Linked DNA regions of Homo sapiens: all the other regions are linked to region 1. Evidence: fine-mapped expression QTL. A gene starts in region 1. Each other region holds a variant in brackets. All regions are shown on one strand. Distances are from middle to middle.

Region 1 (4,087 bases):
AGAATCCAAAAATATTAGCGGGGTATGGTGGTGCGTGCTTGTAATCCCGGCTACTCAGGAGGTTGAGGCAGGAGAATCGCTTGAACCCAGGAGAGGGAGGTTGCAGTGAGCCGAGATGGCACCACTGCACTCCAGCATGGTAGACAGAGTGAGACTCCGTGTTCTTTTCCCTAAAAAAAAAAAAAGAGTAATTGGGGAAGTTGTGCTTCAAAAGAGTAATTGGGGAAGTTGTGCGTCTTAGGGCCTCTGGAATAATGGCTGGTAATATTTAGAATTCCAGCCCTTCTCATCCTAATTTGGTGGCTGGTGGCCTTTCATTCATTTTACAAGAACAGTTTAGCCCTTGGGAAGGGCTATTATTTAAGCTATAAACTGAATTCCTTCCCAAGGCTACTTTGGCCTATGCCCAGAAGTGGACAAAGACAGTTTAGAGGTTGAAAGGAAGATGAGGTGGGTTAGATCTGATATCTTTTACTGTCATTGATAAGGCTCTGATGACTGGAGGAACACCAGGGTCCTTGGTCTCTGATAGGCTTAATAACACAGACACACGTGGAGTGGTTTTAAGGAGCGAAAAGTTTAATAGGCAAGAAAGAAGGAAGGAAGACGAAAACAGCTCCCCCATACAGAGACAGAGGGAGCGGGGATTCCAACAAAGAGAAAGCGCCGTGTGCGGAAAAGTGGCTGCTTATCTGAGGATGCTGGAGGAGGCGGTGTCTGGTTTCCATAGGGCTCAGGGGATTAGTTTGATCAGATGTGTCATTTATGTGGCAGCCAAAAACCTGGCCCTCCCACCCTAGCTTTTTAATATGCAAATGTAGGGCTCCATGAAGTTCTACACACGTGGGAATATGTGGGGGGTGGCCATGTTGCCAGGCACATGTCAGGGCAAAGAAAAGGACGGCGGGAATCGCCATGTTTGGGTGCGTCCAGTTTCTAATGGCCTGTATTTCCATATCAAAGCTTGCCATCCTGCTCTAGGAGCCCAGGCTTTCCTGCTAGACAAGAAACCTTTCTGGAGCTGCTTTAAAAGAAACAAAAACTTCCCAAGGACCCCTTTCCTTCTCTATCTGCTTAAAATAATTTCTTAATAACTCCTATAACATCATAATTTCCTTAGGTATAATTTTGCAAAGGCGGTTTCAAAAGCTCTTTGGGGTCCTCAGTAATTTTTAAGAGTGTAAAAGGATTTTAACAACAACAAGTTTGCGAACCACTGTCCTTGAGAAGCTCTCCATGGATGCGCATGAGTCTGTCCAATTGGAGTCCTGGTGTATTTCTACATTAGATACCACACAGCAGTGAACACACAATGAACAGGTCAACACGTGTCATTATAGAACTGCGCAAAAGAGCTAGTAGCAGGCATTGTAAGTGTATTTATATAATGTTTACAACCATGGAAAACAACACTATATTTTGCTTATGGGTACCTGTGGTAAGCACAACCCCAAATATTGCGGCCGAGGGGGACCTAGAAGGTCAAAGTGCGCCTCAGCATTTTCTCTCGCCCTGCACAAGCCGCATTTCGCCCCGAGAACTACGCTTCCCGGCAGGCTGCGCGCCGCGCGGTGACGCACTTCACCCAGTCCTGCTTCTTTCTTCTGGCGCCGCCAGTGGCCCGCGGTGCGCATTCTAATCCGTTTCACACACGGTGCTGCTACCTCGTTTGCTTCGTGCGTGCGTGCGCGCGCAGATGTGGGCCCCGCGGGAGCAGCTACTGGGCTGGACTGCGGAAGGTGAGTCGGGGCCGCGAGATCGCCTCCCCCATTCGGTGCTCCAGCCGCAGGCGCCGCGCAGGCGTCGGCCGTATCCACCAGGGATGCGCGTGGGGTGCGAGCTGTGTGAGGCGCTGACTACCCCTACAGCGGCTCTTACTCCCCTGGGGGGCCAGGTTCCTCCCTAGGTGTCCCGTACAGTCTCCACGGTGCTCACTCCACGACTCTTCACCGGGCATCCTGCACTTGTGCACTCCGGCAGTCATTGGCCATAAATGGCTGCTGAGCATTTGAGATGTGTGGAGTGCAACTGAAGAACAGCATTTTGTATTATTATATTATATCATATTTATTTTGAGACGGAGTCTCGCTCTGTCGCCCAGGCTGGAGTGCAGTGGCGCGATCTCCGTTCACTGCAATCTCCGTCTCCCGGGTTCAAGCAGTTCTCTGCCTCAGCCTGCCGAGCAGCTGGGATTACAGGCGCCCTCCACCACGCCTGGCTAATTTTTGTATTTTTAGTAGAGACGGGGATTTCACCATGTTGGCCAGGCTGGTTTTGAACTCCAGACCTCGTGATCCGCCCACCTCGGCCTCCCAAAGTGCTGGGATTACAGGCGTGAGCCACCGCGCCCGGAGTATATTATATTTTTATATTTTTTGAGTCGGTCCGGAGTGCAGTGGCGGGATCTAGGCTCACTGCAGCCTCCGCTTTCCCAGGCTCAAGTGATTCTCGTGCCTCAGCTTCCGGAGTAGCTGGGATTACAGGCGGCGCCTCACCACCCCGGCTGTTGTATTTTTAGTAGAGAGGGGATTTCGCCATATTTGCCAGGCTGGTCTCGAACTCCTGGCCTCAAGCAATCCACCCACCTTGGCCTCCCACAATGTTGGGATTACAGGTGTTAGCCACCCCACCCGGCCCAAAAGACTTTTTTTTTGGAGACAGAGTCTTGCTCTGTAGCCCAGGCTGGAGTGCAGTGGGCGATCTCTGCTCACTGCAACCTCTTTCTCCCAGGTTCCAGCGATTCTCCTGCCTCAGCCTACCAAGCGGCTGGAATTACAGGGACACGCCACCACGCCCGGCTATTTTTTTGTATTTTTAGTAGAGGCGGGGTTTCATCATGTTGGCCAGGCCGGTCTTGAACTCCTGACCCCAGATGATCCACCTGCCTCGGCCTCCCAAAGTGTTGGGATTACAGGTGGGAGCTACCACACCCGGCCCCAAATGACTTTGGATGTAACAACAGGAACAGTCTAGAACAGGGCTGGGCAAATTTTTTTCTGTTTGGTTTTTTTAGAAACAGGGTCTCCCTATGTTGCCCAGGCTGGTCTCCAACTCCTGGGCTCAAGGGATCCTCCCGCCTCGGTCTCCCAAAGTGCTAGGATTATAGGCGTGAGCCACTGCACCTGGTCTTGCAAACGTTTTCTTTTAAGGGCCAGGTGGTAAATGTTTCAGGCTTTGTAGGCCACACGGTCTTTGTTACGACTAGTGGTCTGCTGTTGTGTGAAAGCAGCCAAAGACCATAGGTAAACGAATGAGCATTGCCGTGTTCCAATAAAACTTTCTTTATAGACATTGAAATTTGAATTTTGGCTGAGTGCAGTGGCTCACGCCTGTAATCCCAGCACTTTGGGAGGCCAAGGCAGGAGGATCTCTTGAGCCCAGGAGTTCAAGACCAGCCTGGTCAACATGGCAACACCCCATCTCTACTTTAAAAATAAAATAAAATAAAATAAGCTGGGTGTGGTGCCGTACACCTGTAATCCCAGCTACTCTGAGGCTGAGGCGCAAGAATTGCTTGAACCTTGGAGGCAGAGGTTTCAGTGAGCCGAGATCGCATGACTGCACTCCAGCTTGGGTAACAGAATGAGACTCTAAAAAAAAAAAAGGAAATTTGAATTTCATATATAATTTTCATTATTATGAAATATTCTGTTTCTGATTTTTTTTTCAGCCAATTAAAAATGTAAAAACTGGCCCAGCATGGTGGCTCACGCCTGTAATCCCAGCACTTTGGAAGGCTGAGGCTAGGATCACTTGAGCCCAGAAGTTTGAGACCAGCCTGGGCAACATAGTGAGACTTCATCTTTGTGTTAAAATTTTTTTTTTCTGAAGTAAAGACTATTCTTAGCCTTTGGGTGGTATAACAACAGGTGGCAGGCTGGATTTGGCTTGTGTGTAGTTTGCCAAGCCATTGTTCAGCATGTAGCTGTTTGTCCTGTGTGGGAGCCCTTGTGCCTCCTTCCATCCACTCTTTGAGGGTGGTGGGCTTTGTCTCTGCCTACTGTGCCAAGACCAGTTCAATTGGATAGCAAAGCTAAAGAAAGTAAAGACAATGGACCGGGCGCGGTGACTCACGTTTGTAATCACA
Region 2 (4,087 bases), 410 kb after region 1:
AGGAATCAGGCAAAGTGCTGGCTACAGAGGTTCCCCAAGACCAGGCCCCAAATCTGGCACAAAGAGGGCTTGAGAGTGGACCAACTTGGCTGGTGGGTGGGCTCAGTGCAAGGATATATGGTGGGGAACTAGGGGTAGAACATCAGACTCAGTGCAGTGGAGGGAACTGAGAGGAGCTGGACTAGAGGTGGGGTCAAATAAGGCGGATCTGGTTGGAAGGCTGAGAACAGACTACCCCGGGGTCAGAGGCCAGACCTGGAAGAGGCTAAAGTCCAGTGAGACCATAAGGACATGGTGGCCCCGCCGGCCACCTGGTTCCTCCTGCAACTCCAGCCGCAGATCGTGCCACCGGCCATCACTGACAGTCACCTGGTCCAGAAGGAGATGGGAAGCACGGCCCGAGCCCCTGGTCACTGTCACAGACAGTAACCCCCGATCTAGCTGTGGGCAGAGATGCATAGCCCTGGGGTTAGAGCCCCATGTGGGCTGGGACTTGGAGGTGAGATCAGAGGGCTCAGAGGTCAGGAATATCAGAGGTCAGAACAGTGGGGTCAAGGTTATACCTGGCACAAAGGGCACTGTGCCAGGGGACATCATGTTGCTGATATGGGGTCAGGGGGCAGAGGATAGGACCAGGTGTTGTGGGTGGGTTGGTGCAGCTTGCATAAGAGAGAGCTATGCTGGAGCCCTGCACCTGCAGAGGATATAATGATGGAAAGAGAATCAAGGGCTAGGGTCCAGAGCAGGGTCAAGTGTGGTTGGGACACCTGGCAGAAAAGTATGCTGTGTGACCAACCTGAACCCACAAGAATGTCAGTGGCGGCCTAAGAGACTGAGAACTGAGGGTATAGGGGTGAGCAGGGTGGACACACCTGGCAAAGGAGCGTGCTGTGTGGCCCAGCCTGCACTTGCATCAGGACCCCCTGCGTTGCCCGTGTCCGAAATGCCAGCCCCAGGTACCATGGCACAGACACAGCCATGTCACTTCCAAAGTTCCAGCTCAGTGTGCCGTTGCCACGGAAATGGTGGGGATGGGCCATAGCTGAGTGGATAAGAGAAACAGGGTTACAGCCCCTGCCCCAGGAACAGATCTGACCCTGCAGGCCCCTCTGCCCCATGCTGCCCACTTACTAAGCTGACAGTCTTTGCCGCCGAAGCCCACAGGGCAGTCGCAGCTGAAGCTGCCCCAGCGCTCCGAGCAGAAGCCACTGTTCTTGCAGGGGCCTGAGTCACAAAAGTGTAGCTTGGCTTGGCAGCCTGGGAGAGGAAAGCACATGGCGGACATGAGAACAAGGGTTGGGGGGCACAAGTGCTGGACAGGACTTTAGTGTCCAGAGGGGCTGAAAGAGACCAAGATCTCAGCCCCATTTCCCATTTTCTTTCGATGAGTGGGGTTGGTAAGAGTCAGGCCCTAAAATCTGGGCTGTAGCATGGTGCTTGCCACCAAAGGAGACTGGCTTGAAGTCAGGTATGGAGTCCTCCACTTCCTCCCTATGATGGGGACAGGGCCATGGGCTAGGCTGGTGGAAGCTTCAGGCCTACCTGCCATGGTGCCATTATTTGCGACAAAAGCCGCCATGTCCACTCGGCGGCCATCAATGTGCAGGTCCCGCATACAGCCGATGAAGTCCTTATGGGATACGGGGAAGTTCTCGGGGAGGTTGGGGACACCTCCCAGAAGAAGAGGGCCCGTCAGGTCCAGGGACCTGGGGATCAGGGGTCTGGGTCATTGGTGGGACTGGGGCCAGAGTAGAGTTGCTCCTGGGGGGCCACAGGAAGCAGGGGGGTAGGACCCAGAGGGTAGGGTGATTGAGGGAGGAAAATAAGGCCGAGCTGTGGAAGGAGTTAGGATCTTACTTCAGTTGGGGTGCAAAGGGGCACCCGTGATGGGCCGATGGTCTGGGGAAAGGTAGGTGAATGGGGGTTGAGAGCTATGATGAAAGAATGAGGCATCTGGCTGGCTGGGGAGGGGATGGAGACGTGAAGACTCTGGGGGACTGGACATGAGATGAAGGGACTCGGAGGGGATGTGGGACATTAGTGAGACTGGGGTGGGGAGGT[G/A]GAGGCTTTGGAGGACTGCCTGGGGACTGTGTGTGGGAGGAGGGAGTATGGGGTGGAATACAGGATTGGGGGCTAGGGTGAGTAGGCTTTCAGGGTCTTTGAGAGGAGAGGGGAATCTTGGTGGTTTGGGGGAAAGATGGGAGAGTTTGGCAGGATGGGATGAGGAATGGGATGTGAAGGGTTGGAGTGGGCTTTGGTAGGCAGGGGACAAGGGGACTAGGGGGCAGGGGCCTCACTTCTTGGAGCTTGTTTGCACACCAGCAGCCGCGCATGAGTAGTTGCCAATCTCAGCACCAAACTGCAGAGCCACGGCCACATCACAATCATCCACGCTTAGCACAGCCACCTTGTCCTTGGAGGGGCCCTGTGCACCCCCTAGGGCATCTGTCCGGGGCTGAAGACGCAGGCACACCAGTCAACAGTGCCCCCAGTAACCCCTGAGGAGCAGAAGTCAGCATCCCAACTCCCCTCATACCCGATGCCAGGGATGGCCCCCACCTTGTTGTAGTATCTCAGATGCACTGTATGCCATTGCCCGTCACTCAAGCCCCCTGGAACTGTGGGGCTGACCACGGTGTTGGATTCACCTGGAGGGGAGATGCATGTGGAATCATCAGGAGCAGCGGAGTCGCCCCATCCCACCCGTCATATAAGCACAACCATTCCCAGGGCCACCCTGGATGCATCAGATCAGTCCCCCCACTGGTGACCACAATGGCTGGCTCAGAGTGCCTTTGAACAGACAGGAGAAACAGACTTCTTGGAGGGAGGGACCTTCCCACAGGGAATGGCCAAGGAGCTAGGTCTTCAGGGCTTGCATGGCGTGGAGTGTGTGCTCAGGTGCACAGTGAAGCAAACCTGAGGGGACTTGGGCCCTGCGTCCTCCAGCACACACGCACCCTTTCGCCGTCACATCCGGGGCACCCACCCGTGGAATATGTGAGCCGCACTTGGCCAGCCACGAGTTCCAGGGCCAGGAAGTCGTGCTTCTCGTTCAGGCGCCCGTTGTAGAAGAGCAGCCCGCTCTGCTGCACTGTCGCGAACCTGGGCGGGGTGGGAGGGGGTTGCGGGGGTGGGAGCGTCAGGAGCAGGGTACCACTTCACACCCACCATCCCTGCGAGGAGAAGGGGCTGGGGCGAGAGAGGAAGCGACGAGGGACGGCGGGACCGACCGGGGGGACGCGGGTGCAGCGAGGTCAGGAGACCCCGGGCGGGGCGTCAGGGGAGGGGCGGTGTCTCATGGGGATGCCAGGACGGGGCAGTCAGGAATCTGAGTCAGGGCGGGTAGGTGGGGGCGGCGGGGAGGCGCTCAGACACGGGGCGGGCACCTACGAGAGGGACAGCGTAAGGTGGAATCGCTGCCGCAGGCCGCGAAACATGACGAACGAACTGGGCGGGAAGGAGCGCGCAGCCACCTCGCAGCGCGGGCCCTCGAAGGCGCCGCCTGCCGGGCACTGGCAGCGAAAGCCGCCGTTGGGCGCGTCGGTGCAGGTGCCCCCGTTGCGGCAGACGCCCGGCACGCAGCGGCCGGCCTCGGTGTCCAGCTCGCAGTCCTCTCCTGGGGGCCAAGCCGCGGTCAGAGGCGGTCACGCCCACGCCCGCCCCTGCTCCGGCCCCTTCAAAGACCGCGCGCCCAGAGGCCGGGTGCCAAGACCCCCGAAAGGTCGCCCTCTTCGGTGGACACGCCCCTTCCGTCTGGCCCCGCCCCCTCCCCAGTCTCATCGCTGCCTCGGCGGCGGCCCCTTCCGGCCACGCTCTACGGCTTCTGGCCTAAGCGCGTCCATACCAGGCCGTGGCCTCAGAAGTGACTCCCAGTACTCACTCGCATTGTGGTCCCGCCCCCAGCCTTGGCCCGTGCTTCCCCCAGCTCTGGCCCGGCGCCCTGCTCACCGGTGAAGCGCGGGCGGCAGACGCACGTGTAGCCTCCCTCGCGCCGCGCGCAGGCTCCGCCGTTGCGACATGGGTTGGAGTAGCAGAGGTCGAGCTCGGTCTCGCAAAAGTCTCCCGTGAATCCGGGCGGGCAGCG
Region 3 (4,087 bases), 92 kb after region 1:
CTTCTCCTAATTCTAGTGTATAATGGCCCCTGTTTTTGCTAGAATGTCTCTCCCTAACAAGGGAATGGGGCTTTCAGGCATAATTAGAAAGGTATGTGAAAATGGTAAAGTTCCCTAGTCACAACTTAGTGTCTGGGAGAAGTATCTAGTGACTGCCTGTCCTAGGACCCCTCGGATAGTGACAGATCTGGAGGACAGTTGTCTGGGACAGGAGAGTAAGACTGAGAAGGCCGCGCTAGTGTCCAGCAGACAGTTAACCTCCTGGCCCTCAGTGGTCAAGCATACCTGGGGAGGGTGATGCCAGGGGCTGGCGCTTGCCCCAGGCACCCTCAGTCCTGCTGCTGGATCATCTGGTTAGTGGCTTCTGACTCAGAGGACCTTCATCCCCTGGGGCAGTGGGCCTTCCAGTGATACCCTTGAAATAAGGGGCATGGATGAGGGGGTGGCTTATTTCTATTCGGACAATCTTTTTTAAAGTGTCCTTGTAGACCGCACTGGAATCAAATCCCTATTAGGCATTCGATTTGCCCAGCCTTTCACTTTTCCAGAGCCTCCAAAGTCCACTTGCCTGAAGGCCATGACTAAAGCGGTGGCCTTCTTTTTATCCCGTTTGTCCAGTTCTGCCTGCTCCTTCTGATCTCTATTATAAAAACTGAGGCCAAGTTCTTAGTTTAAGTTTTGTTCCAGGCCTAAGGCGGATTTTGAAGTTTTTTTCTAATGTCTGCAGCTGAGTGATAAACTTACCCTTTAAGATTAGTTGGCCTTCAATAGATCCAGATGACAGAGAGGTATGCTTCCTCAATGCCTCCCTTAGTCTCTCCAGAAAGGCAGTAGGATTTTCTTCCTTTCCCTGTGTTATAGTGGGCATCATTGAATAATTCATAGGCTTCTTCCTAGTTTTTCTTAGTCCTTCTAGCATGCAAGTTAGCAAATGTCTGCGGCACCAATCTCCACATTCTGATTCTGCGTCCCATTGAGGGTCTACACTGGGAACTGCCTGCTGGCCTGTGGGGAATCGTTCTCTTTCCTCTGTTGTCATCCTATCATTGACCTGACTGAGATACCAGAGATTGCCAAACTCTTGGGCTGCAGTTATAGCGGCACTTCTCTCATTTGGGGTTAGTATCTGATCTAGCAGTAACATTATGTCTCTCCATGTCAGATCAAAGGATTGTCCTAACCCTTGTAAAACATCAATATAGCCATCAGGGTTATTTGAGAATTTACCTAGGTCTATTTTAATTTGCTTCAAGTCTGAGAGGGAAAAAGGTACACACACTCTGGGCTGAATTCTCCTCCTCCCACCACTTCAAGGGGGCATAATCTGGGAATATTGGCACTCTTTGGTTCATTGTTTACCCCTTTCTCTATCTCCTTTGGCACCGTTTGTGTTGAAGGGGGGTCATTATTAGTTGGGGAAGGAGCCGGGGGAACGCCGGGGCAGGGGGGTAGATTCTGAGGGCTTCCTGTAGGGCATAAATCACACTTTTAACATAATTGTGAGTTGTCTCTTAATGAAAAGAAAGTTTGCACATATGGCACTTCGCTCCATTTGCCCTATTTTCTACAAAAGAAGTCTAGCTGTAAGATGGTGTTATAATTTATACTTCCCTTGGAGGGCATGTTTCTCCCTCTTGAAGAGGATATTGTGGCCAGGGGTACTGCAGAAGAATATAAGTCGTTTCTTTCTTAGCATCTGAGGGTCAAATTGGTCCTAATTCTCTAGAATACATCTTAGGGGCGTTTTTGCCTGGGAGGGGGGAACGTTTAAAAAGAACATAGGGATGCCAGCACCCCTAGTCATTTTCTGATGAGCATTAGTCCTAGAGCGTCCTCTGTGGTCCTAATGCTTATTCCTTTTCAGGGTGCGTAACCACCCACGGACCTCTGCTTATCAGATTAGTTACACTCACCGATGTAGCAGTCCTGCACCTGTTTTCCTGCCCTTCTTGACCACAAAGAAAGGGGTCTGGGCTGCTGGATTCTAGTGGTCCTTTACCAGCGTGCCTGACATTGCCTTTGCACTCAGGAGTGAGTTCTAGAGCTGGGCTGGGTTTCTGAGTATTTCATAACAACCCAGTTGCCCCATCAAGATGCATTTTCATAAACAACAGTTCTTATGCAAATTCGTTTCAGAGAGGGTGTAGGTAACCTTTTGAGTCAGGATTGAGATAGAGTTTTTGCCCACTAGGGCCTTTGTCCTTTTCCTTTGTAGGAATATGCCTTAATTATCGAACTTAAGATTTTGTTGCCCTGGATTAAGTCCTTTTGGGTACGAAATATGAGAGATGGCTCCTGTTTATCCTATGTGCCTTTTTCCTA[C/T]GAGAAGGAGAGCGAGGAGAAAAAGATGGGCTTGCTCTTTTTGTAAGTACTTTAAGGCTTGGCTGAGTGCAAACAGCTCGCAGTTTGTGCAGACCAATTATGAGGCAATTCTCCTAACTCTGCTTCCACAAGAGTTTCCTTATCAATTACTGAATACCCATTGTGGTTTTTTCCTCAATCGCCTGGGAGGAACCATCTATCGTCCTATCCTAAAGGAAGTTCCTCCTAGGTCTGGTTGGACCTTTGCATGGCAATTAAGATTTAAATCCCCTGTTAGGAAATCTGCTGGGTTAAGGGAATTATCAGTGGTTGGTGTTAAATCACCTTTTTCTAACAGAATAGCCCCATACTTTAAGAATTTTGAGCTAGTAAGCTACCTTTTTTTTTTTTTTTTTTTGGTCTTAGGATTGTTCTGAACTGGTGAGGTGTGCTCACAATGAGGTTTCCTCTAAAGGTTATTTTTCTACTTTATTCTGTTAGCAAAGCAGTTGCCACTACAGATTGAATGCATTTGGGCCATCCACGGGTTACTGGGTTCAGGATTTTTGATAGGAAGGCTATGGGTTGTCAGTGGTCTCAGTGTTTTCGGGCTACGCCCTTGTTTACACTGACAACAAGGTAGTATTGGAGTATTATAGGGTCGTGGAGAAGACCTTTAATTATCAATTATAGGTTCTAAATTTACCTTGGCTTTTAAAGGAATAGGGTACACTGTTTTTTCTTTACTACCTCTCTCTTTCCCTTTTTTCTTTCTTTCTCTCTTTGACTTTCTGCCTCTTCCTCTCTCTGTCTGTCTTTTTTTAGATGGATTTTGGAAACGCAGTGGAAGGACGTTCACTTGTTGCCCCAGTTTGCCACTATAGGAACATGTGCCTCCCTTTAATTTACTCAAATTCGTTTTCATCCTGATCTATTATGTTGTTGTAGACTCAGTTCCAGTTGTTAAAATACTGGGTTATCAGTTCTAAGGGCCTGGCCAAGGAGCCAAGGCTTGGAGATTGTATTGCAGGGGGTAGTAAACTGGGTAGAAATTAGGGGAGGAGAGCATCTTACACAATGGGAGAGCGATCTTCCTAGCTATTTACAAACTTGGGGCCCTGGCAAGGGTGGTGGGGAATGGGTCCCACATAACAGCCCATGTTGACAGCTATATACCTAAATTGGGAGGGACACCAGGGGCAAGACTCCCTGGGTTCATAGCCTAGATATCTAAGGCCACAGCATAGAGCTTCCTTAGATCTCTTTGGAGATACAACTTGCTCTAATACTTGGGAGAGGAAATGAAAGTCTGAAGCATTAGTACCTAGGAGGCAGGGATTGGAGGAAGTAGATTCAGAGGTAAGGAGAATTTTTGGGGCTACACTTTCAAGAAAGTCATGGTCGGGACCCAGGAGGTATGGGTCAGAAGGAAAGGTAGGGGTGCACACGTGGGCAACTGTTGAGTAGAGACTTCTGGCTGCACCATGATCTCAACCAGCCAATGCCGGGAGTTCAGGACGACAGCTTTCTGCCTCTAGTCGGCCCTCGGCTTCCCCCCAGGAAATTGTGAAAGCGGAAGCTGGTTCCAGGCAGACCAACGCTCCTAACCCCAAAGGGTTGGGGGTTGTTAGAAAGCCTTTTCCCAGAAAGCCTCACAGCTGAGTCTTAAGTCCAGTGGCCATGCTAATCATTTTTAACTGGCTGACAGGTGCCCGGTATTTCCTCTGATTCTAAGGAAGGATAGGACAGGATAGCAAGCTAAAGTGGTTCAATATTACTCACCACT
Region 4 (4,087 bases), 22 kb before region 1:
TCCCTCTCCCCTGCAAAGGACGACAGCGGGTTCCTCTGAGTGGTATATCCAATATCCAGGTCTTTCCTTTATGGCTGGGCAGAGCCTCCACCCCCGGACACCATGTCCCAGGCCCTTCTTATGAATCAGTCTAGGAAACAAAGGCACATTTACTGGAAACTGCCTATCACTATCCCGTGCTGTGTAGTGTTTCATTTGACAAATGATTTCTGAACTTGGGTCTGGACCTGCTGGGAGCGGCTCTTACCCATCTGGGCCCTCTGAGGGCAGAGCCCAATGCCGATTCTGAGAGGGGCCCAGTGAGGAAAGGAATCCTGACCTTAGGGAGTCTGTGGGCTGAAGGGAATGCAGGGGCTTGCCCTTGGGAGTCCCTGTCTGAGGGACAGACAAGACTGTCACACTTGGGAAGCCCTTGGCCTGGGAAGGAGATGCAGCCCCATAATCAGGAGCCTGGACAGAAGGAGAACTTGGGGAAGCCTTGTCTAAGGGGCATCCCAGGGCTTCATGACTCTTGTCTGAGGACAACTGTGGTCTTACCCCTGGGACTAGCCTGATGGATAAACACAGCCTGAGACTAAAGGTGGGGTTGGTGAGCTGTCTCCTAGCCTGGTGTTGGTGGGGGACGCATCACAGAGGATGCCAACTGGGGGCTGAAATCCAGGGGACAACCTGGAGAGGCTGAGTCTGAGCCAAAATATGACAGGGGCCTGGGGTAGTAGGTTATGTTATTAGCAAGAAGGGGAGCACAGTTCCCCAACAAGATACATATGCACAGTTTCATGCGTGCATATGTATCTTGTTGGGGAAGAGTTGGGCTAAGGCCATTGCCAAGTAAGGAGACCTGACCCTGACCTCACTTGCCAAAACATCCCGGGAGTACAGGACTTGACAGTGGACATGCACTTGCTTACTCACTGTTGCATTTGAACAAACACTGCAGGGCATCTCATTCCCATCCTACAAATATGAGAACATTATCAAGAAAACAAGGCAACTTGCTCGAAGTCACACAGCTAGTAATCGACGGTGCTTGAGACCCTCCACCCCAGGTCTCTTGGCAATACAATTCTGCAAGTGAAAGAAAGGCAGAAGGAGGAACTTGTCCTGAGTCTGGGCAGAACCTGTGATTGGCATTCCCTGTCTGCCACAGGGTATAAGCATACCCTGCCCCATGCCCCAGGTTTAGGGAAGGAAACGTCTGCCTTTGAGTATATATTCAATACATTGCTCCAATGCATTGCTGTCTACAAGGTTGGGGCTACTGTCCCAATTTTTGCACGAGAAAGGTTCAGGGAGGGAGGCAATTTACCAGAAGTTAGCTCTTGGCCTGAGTCACCCCAATTTTCTATTTTTGAGTCAGGGTCTTGCTCTGTTGCCCTGACTGGATACAGTGGCATGATCACAGCTCACGGTAGCCTCCATCTTCTGGGCTCAAGCAATCCTCCCACCTTAGCCTCCCAAGTAGCTGGGACCACAGGTGCACACCACCATGCCCAGCTAATTTTAAAATTTTTTTGTAGAGACAGGGCCTCGCTCTGTTGCCCAGGCTGGTCTCGAACTCCTGTCCTGAAGCACCATGCTTGGCCAACAAAGTTACTATCTCTGGGAGCACACTATGTTTACTTCTGAAGCATTAACCTAACAGGTCACATTAATAACAACAAAAACAATTCACATGTACTGGCCACAGACCATGTTGTATTTGACCCTCACAACAATTCTACAAACTAGACATTGTGATGATCATCCCTGTTCTACAGATGAGGAGGCAGGAGAGCAGACACATCGGTATGCAGATACACAGCTGGTCGCAGCAGGGCTGAGCCAGGAACCCAGTCAGCCTCATGAGGGAACCTGGGCTCTTTGCCTGCAAAGCCCTGGGCTTTCTGTGCTGACTATAGATTCTGGGCACAGGGAGGGACAGGGACAGTGACTCACCCACAGAGACAGAGGCTGGTGACGAATATGGTTCCTGGGATTCCCATCCCAGGACTCCCTCCCCAGTGCTCCCCAAGGGGATGAACAAACTGCCTGCTTGGTTCTCTACTTTTCAGACAAGTTGG[C/T]CATTCTGATGAAGGCTGTCTCAGGGGCAAGCAGGCCTGAGGAGGTGGGTGCTTCCACCAGGACAACCAGGGCTGCAGACACGGAGCCAGAGAGGGAACGCAGAGTGGGGGCTAAGCTGGGCTTTGTTCGCCAATGGGGGAGGGATTGTGGAGTGGGAGAGGGTAGCTCCAGCATCTGCTCATCTGTGGAAAGTCTCTCAGAGCCTTCAGCAGTCCCAGTGCACCAGGTTCCCTGATCACATTGTGTAGGAGTTGGAGCCTCCTGGGTCTGCAGGAGAGGAAGGGGCCACTTAGAGAAGTCAGGGTGGGAGATTCAGAGAGAGAGAGGAAAGAGAGAGAGATAGAGAGACAGAGGGACAGGGGCTGCCCAGGCCTTTGTGAAGGGACATTTATCTAGCCCTCAAGTCTTGATGTGGAAAAGCCTAACTTTTTTTTTTTTTTTGAGACGGAGTCTTACACTCTTGCCCAGGCTGGAGTGCAGTGGCGCCATCTCAGCTCACTGCAAGCTCCGCCTCCTGGGTTCACACCATTCTCCTGCCTCAGCCTCCCAAGTAGCTGGGACTACAGGCGCATGCCACCACACCCAGCTAGAGACGGGGTTTCACTGTGTTAGCCAGGATGGTCTCAATCTCCTGACCTCATGATCAGGCCACCTCGGCCTTCCAAAGTGCTGGGATTACGGGCGTGAGCCACCGCGCCCGGCTAAGCCTCACTTTTCTTTTCTCATTCCGCCTTGCCTAGAATCTTCTGATCACTCTATTAATGGGGTGAGCCATTATGAAAAAGGCGAGCTGGTGAGAGCCTCCTTTCTCCCTCTCTAGGAGGAAGGGGCAGCCATGGGTTCTAAAGGTCTGAAGTCAGCCGCCCTACCTCAGGTAGTGGACACCGACCTGCATGTGCCGAGGGCAGGACTCACTCCTGGAACCTGGGAAGCCTGGACCTTGTGCGATGGCCCTGAGAGGGAAAGCAAGTGCCCCTGAGTCCAGACTTCTGCAGTTGTATCAGAGGGCCTATGCAAGCTGCTTGGGCTCTGGCTGATTTCATGTGAGGGCGTGTCCAGCACTGGCCGAAGTGGAACGTCCTCTTGAGGCAGTTGGAAAGGGGCTCTGAATATGCCAGATCTGACCTAGAGGAACACAGGAGCATGCAGCTCTCACGCCCTAGCCTAAGGACTAACATTGCCATCTGCTTCTCCCCGGTTTGGCTTCTTGGGGATCCTGAAGCCAGTCAGAAGGGTGGAGGAAGCAGGAGAGCCCTGAGAGGTCTGATATCCCTGGATGGCCCTTTTCCCAACAGCCATAAAAGACCTGATGTGCAAGCCCTGCTTGACCAACAGGCCACTGGGGCAACACTTGAACTGTGAAACCAGGTTGCACAGAAGCCCACTTCTTCCTTCTCTCAAGGCCAGGTGTGCAACCGGTGGCCTTCGTCCAGGCTTCCACCTTCCAGGAGCCCTGCTGTCCAAGCCCCCAAGTGTCCCACAGGCCAACTGAGGTCAAGAGGTACCCCAGGCCTCAGGGCCACATGGCCAGTCCACAGAGGAGCTGGGACCGGAATTTGCCTCATGGACGCTGGACCCCTCTATCACTTTGGCCCTTTATCTCTCCTGGCTGTGATCTCTCCCTCTCCCAACACCAGCCACCCATCCCAGCTTGGTGTCTCAGCTAGAGCACCAAACAGGGAGTAATTTGAGGTCGAATCAGGAGAGACTTCCTGGAAGATGTAGGGGCAAAGAGGAGATTGCTGTGCCTGGTTGGAGGTCAGGGAAAGCTTCATGAGGTGAAAGGGCAGGCCAAACAGAAGGATCGGGGCAGAGCTGGGAGAAAGAGCAGGAGGCTCAGATGAGCCTATGTGATGGGGGCATACGTGACAGTCTGGCACTTGCAGTGTGCAGGGCTGGGGTGAGGGCAGTGGGAACCAAAAGGCCACAGGCCCTGATGCCAGCCTAGGGGGTGTGTGGGCTCCTGAAGGTAGAGGGTTGAAATGGCCAAATTGGTGGTTTAAAGGAACCCCTGGACAACGGT
Region 5 (4,087 bases), 41 kb after region 1:
GTAGTTGCATAACGGCTTGTATTTTTTTTTTTTTTTTCACTACCAAACCTACCTTTGGAAGATGAACCAGTCCTTGAAGCCCAGCTCCCAATCCAGGCTTTTTCCTTTCTGCCTCATTAACCTTGTCCAATCAGGTCTTTGACAGTCATTAAGTCATTAAAGCTGTGATTTCTCCTTCTCCTGGGAGTCTATATTGTTTCTGTTGAGCCGGCCAGAAGGGAACTGAGATCTCTTTATGTGAAAAACCCTGAAAGGGAGAATCCTGTGACATACATGAGCATTCTCAGTACAAGCATGTAAAACATCCGTGAACCGTTATACAGTCTGCAGTGGGAGCCATAACAGGACTCTGGATTGGCTCAAAAGCCCCACTTGGCTGGGCACAGTGGCTCACATCTGTAATCCCAGCACTTTGGGAGGCCAAGGTGGGCGGATCACTTGAGGTCAGGAGTTCGAGACCAGCCTGGCCAACATAGTGAAACCCCATCTCTGCCAGCTGATCTGTTCCCAAGCAAAGAAGAGAGACTACCAAATATATGATGCTGGTAACAATAGCATGCCTATCTTATAGATGAGCAAATAAAAACAAATGTAGATAACTTGGCCATGTTCACACAGCTAATAAGTAATGGTACTTGGCTATAGCCTGGGATTCTGGAAACATCTGGAGTCTGGGTCTGAGAGGCTGTTCTGTTCAATTCCTTGCCCCCAGGCAGCCTGGTTCTTCAAATTCCTCTGGTCTCCTAAAATCTGACTAATTCTGGCCTGGTGTGGTGGCTCATGCCTGTAATCCCAGCACTTTGGAAGGCTGATGTGGGTCGATCACCTGAGATCAGGAGTTCGAGACCAGCCTGGCCAACATGGTGAAACCCTATCTCTACTAAAAATACAAAAATTAGCCAGGCGAGGTGGCTGGCACCTGTAATCCCAGCTACTCAGGAGGCTGAGGCAGGAGAATCACTACTCAGGAGGCAGAGGTTGCAGTGAGCCGAGATCATGCCACTGCACTCCAGCCTTGGCGACAGAGCAAGACTCTGTCTCAAAAAAAAAAAAAAATTCGAATTCTGATACAAGCAAGATTTAGGTGTCTGCTACACCAGACCCATCTCCAGAGACCTCTCAGGTGAGGATTACAACGTGGCCTATTGACATTTTCCAAGCTGGAAACCTCTATGATAAGGCACTGCAGAAATAGTACCTGGTAAACATTTGTACTTCTTATCCCTGGAACATTGGATCCTTCCAGCTTAGAATTCCTTGTTAGTGGGGGCAGAGTGGGGAGATGTTTCTACCAAAGAGCACAGGCAGTGTCTGCTAAACTAATGTTGTTACTAACTTGGTCATTCTGGCTTTCCCACGATGGTAGGCTGGCAGGAAAAGGGAGGAGCCATTATACTTACGTAGGTCATTGACCCTGATTATCATGCATTGGTGATGTTGCTACTCAAGTATATCTGAACCCAGGAGGTTCTGTGAATGCTTCCATACCCAGGCATAACCATCAGTGGGCACTTGCAGCAATCGCAGCTCTCTATCAGGGTAAGTCAGCTAAGGGATCTGACCTCTTGGAAGTGAAAGTCTGTTTTCCCAGTAGGTAAGCATCTTCGACCTGTAAAGGTTGGCTCTGGGGGCAGGAACTATAATATGGTTGATAAAGGAGGGAGGTAATAAGAATCAATTATGGCTTCAGGCCCAGTTGTAATGGTGGGAAATGTTATCTTTTCCACTAATCCACTTATATTGAGTCTTAAGTAGAGATCGCGGCTCACTAGGTTCTTGCCTGACTCTCTGATATGCTGAGCTACATGCAGAGCTGGCGCATGGGCAGACCCAAACACAGGCAGGGGAGGATGGCACTGAACAACTTTTATGCCCCATCTCACGTCCTCTTGGCCCACATTCCTACCCTGACCGTAGCTGCACTCAGGTGAAATCAAAGACCTCCTCACCGTTTCTCTCATGCTCCTTCTAGGAGCTTCTCTGCTGATGCAGTGTGGGAAGCCTGCAAGAGCCCCTCAGCCTTTCTGGCATATGCAAGTCTGGGACTGCAAATGGGTTAGGTCTCCCTGGCAAATCACTGACAACGGATGATGAAACCATTGGACAAACAACCAGCCTCCTAGGCTTTGGTGGGAGACAGAGGACCACCAACTAGATTGAAGCCCATTGTCCACAGTGGTAACCAGCTCAATACCCTAT[G/T]CTTGGGATGGCCTTCCCTTCTCCTTTCTTTTACTCTCTTAGTGTCCTGATGCCTGTTTTCTGAGACCCCTTCCTAAAATAAACTACTTGCACACAAGTCGCCATCTCATGCTCTGCTTTTGGGAGGCCTTGAAGCGTAGTGTATTAGTCTGTTCTCATGCTGCTAGTAAAGCATACCTGAGACTGGGCAATTTATAAAGAAAAGAAGTTGAATTGACTCACAGTTCACATGGCTGGGGAGGCCTCACAATCATGGCTGAAGGCAAATGAGGAGCAAAGTCATGTCTTACATGGTGGCAGGCAAGAGAGCTTGCATAGGGGAAATTCCGTTTATAAAACCATCAGGTCTTATGAGACTTACTTACTGTCACAAGAATAGCACAGGAAAGACCCAACCCAAGATTCAATTACCTCCCACCAGGTCCCTCCCACAACATGTAGGAATTATGGGAGCTACAATTCAAGATGAGATTTGGGTGGGGACACAGCCAAACCATATCACATAGACACAAGAGCTATTGAGACAAGTGTAAGCCTGTGACTCCTGGGACCACTAAACCAGAGGAAGAGCTCTCACCTGAATTATAATTTGTGTTGGGAGGGTTCCCTTTCAAATTTATATTCTGTGGGAACTCATAATCTCAGTTGTCTTCTTACTCTCCTGTATCCTCTGTTCCTCTCTTTTGGCAAAGAACTAGAGCCTATAAATCAATTTGTATTTTACCAGTCCTTCAAAATGTCCATAAGTTGCCAAATTTCCCTAAACTTGACATATTTCTCCTTAAGTCATAATTAAACTTAACAGTCTATACTCATTGTCTTTGTTTCCTTAAATCCAAGTTCTCCATTTTCTTGCCATTTTTCACTTACAGGATCATCTAAAATTTGTGGGTGAGGTTTCTTTACATTGGAAATTTGTAGGGAAACCCCACCTGGAACATCCAAAGATGGGAAAGAGTTGGGGGTCAGAGCCATGGATAAGATACGAACGTCCCAGATTGAGACTATTTAGGAAAAACATGTCTAGTATCTGGGAAGAGATGTTATTTTGAGAGAGAAAAAAGCCACTCAACTGTGGTTGCACTGCCAGAGACCCGGTTACCACCCAGTCATCCATAGCACAGAAAGTCCCCCACTTACAGTGGTTTGACTTCCATTTTTCAACTTTATGATGGTATGAAAATTATAGTACTCAGTAGAAACTGTACTTAGAATTTTGAATTTTGATCTTTTCCCAGGCTAGCAATATGCAATGTGATACTCTCATGATGCTGGGCAGTGGCAGTGAGCCATAGCTCCCAGGCAGCCACACGTTACAAGGGTAAACGATGGACGCTACAGTTCACTGTGCTGCCCGATAATTTTGCCCAACCATAGACTAGTATTTTGTTTGTTTGTTTGCTTTTGTGGCAGTGTCTCACTCTGTCACTCAGGCTGGAGTGCAGTGGTGCAATCTTGGCTCACTGCAACCTTCTCCAGGGCTGAAGCAATCCTCCCACCTCAGCCTCCCAAGTAGCTGGGACTACAGGAACGTGCCACCACACCCAGCTTATATATATATTTTTGGTAGAGACAGGGTTTCACCATGTTGCCCAGGCTGGTCTCGAACTCCTGGCCTCAAGTGATCTGCCCATCTCAGCCTCCCAAAGTGCTGGGATTATAGGCATGAGCCACCGTGCCTGGCCTAATGTAAGTGTTCTAAGCACGTTTAGGTAGGCGAGGCTAAGCTATGATGTCCAGTAGTTTAGGTGTATTAAATGCATTTTTGTCTTATAGTATTTTCAATTTAAGATGGGTTTATCCGGATGTAACCTCATTGTTAAGCTGAGGAGCATCTGTATTACCTTTGTAGGGACAGGCAAACCTATAGGAAACCTAAAATACCAGT
Region 6 (4,087 bases), 480 kb before region 1:
AGTAGCTGGGACCACAGGCATGCACCACCACACCAAGCTAATTTTTTTTTATTTTTTGTAGACGGCTCTCACCATGTTGTCCAGGCTGGTCTCAAACTCCTGGGCTCAAGGACTCCTCTAGCCTCAGCCACCCAAAATGCTAAGATTATAAGCATGAACCACTGCACCCAGCCTTTCTCTTTAGGAAAAAAAAAAGAGAAAGAGATATTGATGGGATTTCGCTCTATCACTCAGGCTAGAGTGCAGCAGTAGTACTACTGTAACTCATGGCAGCCTCTAACTCCTGGGATCAAGTGATCCTCCTGGGTCAGCTCCCAAGTAGTTGGGACCACAATCACACACCACCATGCACGACTAATTTTTAGTTTTTCTGATAAATAGGGTCTCAATATGTTGCTCAAGCTGGTCTCAAACTCCTTGCCTCATGTGACCCTCCTACTTCAGTCTCCCAAGTAGTCTGGATTACAGGCATGAGCCAGTGTGCCCAGCTAAATATGTACTGTTCACTGTACATTGGCCATACTTCAGCAAAGCTGTAGGACACATTACAGGGAGAGAGAGAAAGATGAAAAAAGTAAAAATATAGAAAAAATAAATAAATGAAACATCAATCAAATAAATAAGTACAATGTCAGTGAACTCAGGTTTCTACCTACGAATCCACATGGTACGGAGTACAAACCTGCACTGAAGTTGATCATATAGCTTTCCAGAGCCTTGCCCACCACCTGGTCCAGCATGCCCTCTGCCTGGAATACTAGTCCATGTCTCCAGCACAGCAGCCCATATTCTGCAGCCTACTGAGCTCTATCTAACTGGTCATGCTACATCATGTAGGCTCACTGCCCTTGCACATGAATTATAAAGGCCAGAAGCTAGCTAACTAGATTTTTCAGATTTAACTATTCTTCTACAGTAATTTGTTTTATCCACACGTATGTGGCTGAGCAGTTCAGTTAGACTATTTGTTTTCTCCATGTTGGCAAATTATTTCCTACATGGCCCCCAAGTTACAAGAATATCTATGAGTTCATTAGTACAAAATTCAAAAACAAGCAAAACATAATACTATATTATTCAGGGATGCACACTAACACAGTGATACCTATAAAGAAAAGCAAGGAGGCCAGGCGCGGTGGCTCACGCCTGTAATCCCAGCACTTTGGGAGGCTGAGGCAGGCAGACCACCTGAGGTCGGGAGTTCAAGACCAGCCTGAACAACATGGAGAAACCCTGTCTCTACCAAAAATGCAAAATTAGCCGGGCGTGGTGGCGCATGCCTGTAATCCCAGCTAGTCAGGAGGCTGAAGCAAGAGAACCGCTTGAACTCGGGAGGCAGAGGTTGCAGTAAGCCGAGATCGTGCCATTGCACGCCAGCCTGAGCAACAAGAGAGAAACTCTGTCTCAAAAACAAAAACATACAAAAAAAAAAACGGCAAGGAAAAGATTATCTGTGGGGAAAAAGAGGAGTTTATGGTTGGGGAAGGAACACATACGTTTGTTAGGGTTGTTAGCAATTTCTGACCTGGACTGTGGTTAAATGGATGTTCTCTTTATAATTATTTAAGTCAAAATTTATTTTACTCACTTTCTATATATTTTACAATAGGAAGTTGTTTAAAAAAAAAAAGAAAGAAACTAAACCATTATTCCACAAGTAAATTTCCTACACTATTTTGCTTAAACAGGTGCTCATATTCCACTTTCATCAGACAGAGTTCTAAGCTACAAACTCAAATGCTCACTTCAAATATATATACAACACTTACGGTCTCCTTCCTAGTCCCATGTTCCCAAAGATAGTCTCTCCATTCTGAAATTCATACAACAGCAGAGTGAAATCAGTTCAGGAATATAATATTCTACATTTTTCCTCCAGTTGCAAATTAATTTTTTTTTTTTTTTGAGATGGAGTCTCACTCTGTCGCCCAGGCTGGAGTACAGTGGCATGATCTTGGCTCACTGCAACCTCCGCCTCCTGGGGGCTAGCAGTTCTCCTGCCTCAGCCTCCCGAGCAGCTGGGATTACAGGCGCCTGCCACCACACCCGGGTAATTTTTGTATTTGTAGTAGAGACAGGGTTTCACCATGTTGGCCAGGCTGGTTTCGAACTCCTGACCTCAGGTGATCCACCTACCTCAGCCTCCCAAAGTGCTGGGATTACAGGCGTGAGCCACTGCCCCCAGCCTAAATGATTTTTTTAAGTGCAATGACAGGTTTACAATTTTGGGCATAAGGGTACATGTTCTCAAGATCTCCTGGAGCTGTGTCACGTAAAAAAGAAAACAAAATCTTGGATATCTCCCAAACACAATTAAAATCCAGTTACTTGAGACTCTCACTTAACCTTCTATATTTCTTACTCTCAGAGCTTTCCTGTTTTTTTAAACACAGATGCTTATAATCCATTTTAAAATGCAGAATAAAAAAACAGCTCTAGGC[C/T]GGGCACTGTGGCTCATGTCTGTAAACCCAGGACTTTGGGGGGCCAAGGCGGAAAGACTGCCTGAGCCCAGGAGTTCGAGAACAGTCTGGGCAACAGGGCAAAACCCTGTCTCTACAAAAAAAAAAAACAAAAATTAGCAGGGTGTAGTGGTGCATGCTTGTCCCAACTACTCAGGAGGGTGAGGTGGGAGGATCTACCTGAGTCTGGAAAGTCATGGTCGAATATGCAGTGAGTTGAGATCATGCCACTGCACTCCAGCCTGAGTGACAGAGTGAGAGAGACCCTGTCTCAAAAAAAGAAAAACAGCTCTATCCTATTATTACAATTATGTTTACATTATGTATGCACACGTACTAAAGCCTTGGAGGGCTTGTGGGAAAATTAGAAACTTTACTTGTAGTGAAGGTAAAATATATTTTTCTTTTTTGTTTTATACCCACATCTTCTTAGCAATTTTTTTTGTTTCAAATCATGTGTTTGGTAATGCAATATACCTTTAGCCTTAGCCTTATGAAATGCTTGGTTCTTTCTAAATCTCTCAGCATTTGATAGAACAAGAGCCAGCTGTCCGACATCCAGCATGACTTGGGAAGTTACTATATAAAGTTCCACTCTAGCTGGGCATGGTGGCTCACGCCTGTAATCCCAGCACTTTGGGAAGCCGAGGCATGCGGATCACGAGGTCAGATCAAGACCATCCTGGCTAACACAGTGAAACCCTGTCTCTACTAAAATACAAAACAAAATTAGCCGGGCGTGGTGGCGGGCACCTGTTGTCCCAGCTACTTGGGAGGCTGAGGCAGGAGAATCGCCTGAACCCAGGAGGCGGAAGTTGCAGTGAGCCGAGATCACACCACTGCACTCCAGCCTGGGCAACAGAGCATGATTCTGTCTCCAAAAAGAAAAAAAAAAAAAAAAAAAAAGGTTCCACTCTGATTTTTTTCTTTTCCTTTTTCTCTTTTTTTTTTTGAGATGGAGTTTCGCTCTTGTTGCCCAGGCTGGAGTGCAATGGGCACAATCTCGGCTCACTATAAACTCCACCTCCCGGGTTCAAGTGATTCTCCTGCCTCGGCCTCCTGAGTAGCTGGGATTACAGGCATGTACCACCACACTCGGCTAATTTTTTATTTTTAGTAGACATGGAGTTTCTCCATGTTGGTCAGGCTGGTCTCGAACTCTCAACCTGAGGTGATCCACCCACTTCAGCCTCCCAAAGTGCTGGGATTACAAGGTGTGAGCCACCGCACCCAGCCTCCACTCTGATTTAAAAAAAAAAAAAAAAAGTCCAAATAGTGAACTCGGCCGGGTGCGGTGGCTCACGCCTGTAATCCCAGCACCTTGGGAGGCCGAGGCGGGTGGATCACAAGTTCAGGAGTTCGAGACCAGCTTGGCCAACATGGAGAAACCCCGTCTATACTAAAAATACAAAAATTAGCTGGGCGTGGTGGTGGGCGCCTGTAATCCCAGGTCCTCGGGAGGCTGAGGCAGGAGAATAGTTTGAACCCGGGAGGCAGAGGTTGCAGTGAGCCAAGACTGCGCCATTGCACTCCAGCCTGGACAACGACAACAACAACAAAAAAACAGTGAACTCTTTTTTTTTTTTTAAGACAGAGTCTCAGCTCACTGCAATCTCTGTCTGCCAGGC

Evidence for each region.
Region 2: its variant is fine-mapped to the expression of ZNF589 in subcutaneous fat (GTEx, PIP above 0.99).
Region 3: its variant is fine-mapped to the expression of ZNF589 in whole blood (TOPMed, PIP above 0.99).
Region 4: its variant is fine-mapped to the expression of ZNF589 in whole blood (TOPMed, PIP 0.92).
Region 5: its variant is fine-mapped to the expression of ZNF589 in whole blood (TOPMed, PIP above 0.99).
Region 6: its variant is fine-mapped to the expression of ZNF589 in spinal cord (GTEx, PIP above 0.99).

What each region holds. Positions count from the first base shown.
Region 1 is chr3:48,239,476-48,243,562 of GRCh38, forward strand. It overlaps ZNF589 (zinc finger protein 589), which reads left to right and starts at 1,629. Exons shown (of 4, transcript NM_016089.3): 1 at 1,629-1,739. The coding sequence starts at 1,697. RefSeq lists enhancers at 784-1,078, 1,396-2,313, 1,504-1,798.
Region 2 is chr3:48,652,747-48,656,833 of GRCh38, forward strand. CELSR3 (cadherin EGF LAG seven-pass G-type receptor 3) reads right to left here. Exons shown (of 35, transcript NM_001407.3): 2 at 3,952-4,087; 3 at 3,394-3,619; 4 at 2,990-3,105; 5 at 2,560-2,648; 6 at 2,298-2,455; 7 at 1,543-1,706; 8 at 1,132-1,257; 9 at 873-1,042; 10 at 256-441. Among named protein-coding and RNA genes, the nearest start is that of CELSR3, 8.1 kb to the right of the region's middle. RefSeq lists an enhancer at 3,468-4,087 and a silencer at 3,553-3,782. The variant G/A (reference allele first, on the strand shown) is at 2,062.
Region 3 is chr3:48,331,622-48,335,708 of GRCh38, forward strand. It overlaps SPINK8 (serine peptidase inhibitor Kazal type 8 (putative)), which reads right to left and starts at 2,040. Exons shown (of 8, transcript NM_001080525.3): 1 at 1,914-2,040; 2 at 745-850. RefSeq lists a silencer at 2,385-2,585. The variant C/T (reference allele first, on the strand shown) is at 2,323.
Region 4 is chr3:48,217,848-48,221,934 of GRCh38, forward strand. No RefSeq gene overlaps it. Among named protein-coding and RNA genes, the nearest start is that of CAMP, 3.6 kb to the right of the region's middle. The variant C/T (reference allele first, on the strand shown) is at 2,064.
Region 5 is chr3:48,280,877-48,284,963 of GRCh38, forward strand. No RefSeq gene overlaps it. Among named protein-coding and RNA genes, the nearest start is that of NME6, 18 kb to the right of the region's middle. The variant G/T (reference allele first, on the strand shown) is at 2,200.
Region 6 is chr3:47,763,846-47,767,932 of GRCh38, forward strand. All of the region lies in intron 2 of SMARCC1 (SWI/SNF related BAF chromatin remodeling complex subunit C1), which reads right to left. Among named protein-coding and RNA genes, the nearest start is that of SMARCC1, 16 kb to the right of the region's middle. The variant C/T (reference allele first, on the strand shown) is at 2,442.